Linked DNA regions of Homo sapiens: region 1 is linked to region 2. A link means that fine-mapping ties the variant in region 2 to the expression of a gene that starts in the linked region. Tissue or cell type: whole blood. Region 2 holds a variant in brackets; the other region holds the start of a gene. All regions are shown on one strand. Distances are between the middles of the regions.

The links. PIP is the estimated chance that this variant, and not a neighbour inherited with it, causes the effect.
Region 1: ZNF213 starts here. The variant in region 2 is fine-mapped to the expression of ZNF213 in whole blood (TOPMed, PIP 0.98).

What each region holds. Positions count from the first base shown.
Region 1 is chr16:3,133,689-3,136,369 of GRCh38, reverse strand. ZNF213 (zinc finger protein 213) reads right to left here and starts at 1,341. Exons shown (of 6, transcript NM_004220.3): 1 at 983-1,341. ZNF213-AS1 (ZNF213 antisense RNA 1) reads left to right here and starts at 1,488. Exons shown (of 6, transcript NR_110900.1): 1 at 1,488-1,740. RefSeq lists a silencer at 1,051-1,280 and enhancers at 1,391-1,580, 1,591-1,760.
Region 2 is chr16:3,162,296-3,164,976 of GRCh38, reverse strand. TRK-CTT8-1 (tRNA-Lys (anticodon CTT) 8-1) reads right to left here and starts at 39; the gene lies at 1-39. The variant G/TG (reference allele first, on the strand shown) is at 1,270.

The sequences.
Region 1 (2,681 bases), 29 kb after region 2:
CTTGATATATCGTCTGTGCACTATATTATCTTTCTCAAATTTGAAAACCTCTGAATTCCAAAACACATCTGGCCCTGAGGTGTCACAGAAGGGCTTACAGACACCATCCAAAGCCATTTATCCACAGGTACATATAAATGTATGACACATTTATACCTTACATTGTTACTCTCTACTGAAAAGTGTATTATGCAATTTTCAGTAATCGATTTTTTGTTTCAACAATAAAAATACAAACTGGCCGGGCTTGGTGGCTTATGCCTGTAATCCCAGCATTTTGGGAGACAGACACAGGATGATTGCTTGAGGCCAGGGGTTCAAGACCCCTTTGGGAAGACAATGTGAGACGCCATCTGTACCAAAAAACAAAAAAAGCCAGGTGGGGCTCCTGTAGTCCCAGCTACTGGGGAGGCTGAGGAGGAAAGATTGCTTGAGTCCAGGAGTTTGAGGTTGCAATGAGCTATGATCGCACCACTGTACTCCAGCCTGGGCAACAGAGTGAGACCATCTCAAAAAAAAAAAAAAAAGAAAGAAAAGAAAAGTAAAAAGAAAATGAAAAAAATACAAACCATCTTAATAAAAAAGGGAAGATTCAAACAATATAGAAATCTGTAAAACTCTCCCTTCCTCAATACCATTGTACCCCCCGACTTAACAGTCTGACAAATGACGTCCCAGACCTTTTCCTGTGCTTTTACTAAAAAAGTCATCCATAGCGGGGAGAAAAGGTGCTTGATGTGTTTCTACATAAATGAGACCTTACTGCACAGACATTAGCGGCACTATGAGCTTCCGCGGTATGGATATGCTCTAGTTTCTTAATCAATACTCGAGTGATGCATTCGGGTTGTTTCCAATTCTTTAGTCCATCCTAAGCACTTTATTTATTCTGCTCCTCACAAGACCCCTGAAAGGTGCGCGCACCATTCTCATCCTCTGGTGACTTCGAAGAAGACTTTCCTCGAAGAGGGCCAGGACTCACCAGGGTCGCTCAGCAGGACACGGCAGGCGGGAAGGCGAGCCAGCCGGAGCCCCGCGCTGTCCACCGCAGCCTCGCCCGCGGGGCGAGCGGCGATCGTACAGGGGCGTCTGCCGGGGGACCAAGCTGGCAGAGCGGCGCGGGGGACCAGCACTTCCTAGCAGTGCGCGCGCCCTCCGGCCTCTGCCTCGGGGCGCTGATCCCGGCCACTCGGAGCCCGGTGCTTGATGTTGGAGCCAGGCGGCCAGAGGCCCCGTCCCCGCCCCGGCCCCCGCCCCCGCCCCCGCCCCCGAAACACACAACGCCCACTACGGCCCAGGAGATCCCACTTCCGCCGCGAGCTCCCGGCGCCGGAAGTCCTCGCGGGGCTCGCTGGGAAACTACGCTACGCAAGCATTCCCCAGCTCCCAGAAAGCCGTTCGTCCACTGAGCCCGCCTTCTCCATGACCGATGGCCAATGAACAGGAAGAATTCTCAGGCTGCCTATTAGAAGACAGAAACTCCATACGCGTCATACACCTGCACCCGGGAGGAAAGGCGAGGCTCTGCATCTAGATTTACCTCGTTCTCTTTTGTCTCCGCTTTTTTTTCACATTTCCTTGCGACCCTGGCCCTTGAGCGACAAAAAGGGGAAGCCAAGGCTGGCCCGAGGAACGGAGAGGGCACATGGCCTAGCCACAAGTGGAGCTTCTGCTCCGCCCGAAGGGATGCGCTGGAGCGGCCTCTTCCTTCTGCCACGGTCTTTCTTTGCCAACTAGTAGGTGAGGGCCGAAAGGCCGCGGGCCGTGGAGCTCGGGCCGGGGAGACTCTTTTCTAGCCTCTTGGGTCCCGCTCCTCCCAATTCCCTGGAGAGGCGTCGAGCTTGCTGGGAAGTGCCCTCGGGTAAGGGGCGCGGAGCCTCCTGCGGCGATCCTCTGTCTTCGGGTCGCCTTAGCAGGACGCGGCAAGCGGGACACTGACCTGGCCGGAGTCCCGCGTTCTCTCACCAGCTGCTTTGTCCACGAGTTGCTGCTGGGCGTCAGGGGTCCCACGGCCCGGAGGGATCTAGAGCAGGGGGGCTCGGGGTCCTTTCCATACCCTCGGATCCTCTCCCACTCTCTCCACGCCTCGACCCGGAGATGATTTCAGGCTCCAGATCTCTTTCATAAATGGAAAGAGTTTTTTTGGTTTGTTTTGTCTTAATTATGTAGGTGTTGCATGCTTGGAAGAGAAAATTTAGAAAATTAATTGGAAAACCATAAAGATAGCTTTCTCGTGATAGCCACAAGGCTTGCTCCCTCATTCTGCTCATATGTCACCCCCTCAAGGAGGCCTTCCCCAGCTCTGTAAACAACCTGTGCTCGGCGTTAACTTTTCTCCCTAATGTTTATCACTACCTGACATATACGTGTTTCCCACGACTCAACGATAAGTGTTCATGAGGGCAGACACTTTTTAATGCCCTATGACAAGCACCTAGAATTGTGCCTGGCACATGGTAGATGCTTAGTAAATATTTGTTTAATGAATGAAGGTAAAAAACATTTCTAATACGACCATCCAGGAATAAGTACTATTCATGTTTTAGTGTGTTCTTACAGTTTTACTGTTCAGACAGTTATATGCCTGTGAATATATATTATATATGTGTGTATATATATATATATATATATATATATATTTTTTTTTTTTTTTTGAGACAGAGTCTCGCTCTGTCACCCAG
Region 2 (2,681 bases):
ATTAAGAGTCTCATGCTTTGCCGACTGAGCTAGCCAGGCTGATGTAATAATACTTGCTTCCCACCCTAATACTCAGAATCCTCAAAACAGGCGCTGCAAAAACAAAAACAAAAACAAAAAAACAAAGGCTGTGGTGACTCTAGTCCCGAGGAGGTGGTGCAGGGATGGCTACCCGCGGAGCCGGCCTCTGGCATTCAGACAGCTGGGTGCACAGTCCCTGCCGGGGTCTCCGGACATCTGGGAGCCCCTATCCTCCCCTTCTCAGCGAGTTGTGTAACCTCAAACCCGAGCCTCCAGTCAGGTGGAATTTGTAGTCAGGGACCATTAGCCATGGGTGGTCCTGAGTGGGAGGCGGGGAGGAAAGGAACAACCTCTCTCTGGGGCCCAAGTGCGGATCCGAAGGGGCCTGGGTCCACGCTTCGCTGCCAATATAAATCCCAATTCCTACTTAATATTGAGCCCAGCCTCTGCATATCTCCAAACCGTTTCAAATGACCCAAAGAACCTGCCTCTTCCCACTCCCCTGCAGATCTGCATGCACGGTGGAGGCAAGCGGCTCATGACAGAGGTTTCTCCATGTTGGTCAGGCTGGTCTCGAACTGCCGACCTCAGAACTGCCGACCTCCGGTGATCCGCCCGCCTCCGCCTCCCAAAGTGCTGGGATTACCGGCGATCCCGGCTGCTGGTCTGCGCTGCTTCTGCATTAATGATCAGTGCGGGGTCAGGGGGCCAGCGGAGGCCGGGAAGGAGGGACTGAAGCGAAAGAGTAGAGCAGCGGGGTAGGGTCTGTCCTGAGTGTGTGCCTCACGAAATGGACCCTCTTGTCTTGGGACCCAGTTCTTCCTCGCCTCCCCTTCCCTTCCTTAGATCGGAACAGGAACTGCAGGGCGGCCTCTGTCAAGCACATCTGTGAGAAGAGACCACCAAACAGGCTTTGTGTAAGCAGTAAAACTTTTTTAATCACCTGGGTGCAGGCGGACTGAGTCCGAAAAAGGAGTCAGCGAAGGGAGATGGGGAAGGGGTTGCTTTGTAGGAGTTGGGTAGGTAATGGAAAATTACAGTAAAAGGTGGTTATCTATTGTTAGCAGAGGAGGGGGTCACAAGGTATGTGGTAGGGAGGTCATAAGATTTATTGTCCAAAAGAAGAATGTCACAAAGTCGATTGATCAGCCAAGGTAGGGCAGGGACAAGTCACAGTGGTAGAATGTTGTAATGTTGGTTAATCACTTAAGGCAGGAACCGGCTGTTATACTTCTTTGTGGTTTTTTT[G/TG]GCTTCTTCAGACTTCTTGGCTCCTGCAGGCCATCTGCACGTATATGTGCAGGTCACAGGGGTTATAATGGTTGAGCTTTAGGCTCAGAGGCCTGACACCTCGACCTGTGACCCAGGGCCCAGCAGCAGCCTCGCGGCCTGGCCGTCATCGGCCATCGGCCCAACTTCCTCTTTGTCCACAAGGGGAGCAGTCTCAGGAGTCCCTCCTGCTCCCAGCCAGGGAGTGTCATCGCAGACCTGGTCATTCTCAAAGCCTGGAAAATCCCAGCTTGAAAATGTCAATCAGGCCGGGCGCGCAGGCGCGGGGGCTCACGCCTGTAATCCCAGCACTTTGGGAGGCTGAGGCGGGTGGATCACCTGAGGTGAGGAGCTGGAGACCAGCCTGGCCAACATGATGAAACTCCGTCTCTACTAAAAATACAAAAAATTAGCCAGGCGTGGTGGCACCCGCCTGTAATCCCAGCTACTCGGGAGGCTGAGGCAGGAGAATCACTTGAACCCCAGAGGCGGAGGTTGTAGTGAGCCGAGATGGCACCACTGCACTCCAGCCTGGGCAACTCCGTCTCAAAAAAAAAACAAAACAACAACAACAACAACAACAAAACAATGTCAATCAACGGACAACGGACACTGATACCGGGGTTGGACTATCTGACGGGATGACAAAGGTGGTGAACCAGCCACCATAAACATGCTTCAGCTAAAACTCCTGCTTCATGCAAATGAAAAAATATGAAGTCTCAGGAAAGGAGTAGAAAATATAAAGAATAACTAAACGGAAAGTTTACACCCTAGAAATACAAAACCAAAGGAAGGAGCTTTAATGAATGGGCAACAGCAGAATGGAAGAAAAGAGGAGACTCCTCAAATTTGAAGACAGAACAATAGAAATTACCTGGAGAGACAATAAACTTAAAAAAAATAACAGAACCTCGGGTGTTTGTGGGACTTTAACAAAAGATCTAACATCACAGTTATTGGAGACCCAAGAGAAGAAAAATATGGCCTTTACAAACGAAAGCAGGCCAGATACAGTGGCTCACACCTGTAATCCCAGCACTTTAGGAGGACAAGGCAGGTGGATCACGAGGTCAGGAGTTCAAGACCAGCCTGGCCAAGATGGTGAAACCCCGTCTCTACTAAAAATACAAAAAAAAAAAAAAAAAGAAAAAAAATAGCTGGGCATGGTGGCAGGCGCCTGTAATCCCAGCTACTCAGGAAGCTGAGGTAGAGAATTGCTTGAACCCAGGAGGCAGAGGTTGCAGTGATCCGAGATCTCGCCTCTGCACTCCAGCCTGGGCGACAGAGCCAGACTCCATCTCAGAAAAAACAAACAAACAAAAAAACAAAAAAAAAAACCACACACACACAAAAACAGCTTAAGAGCAGTTTTAGGTTCTCAGAAAAATTGG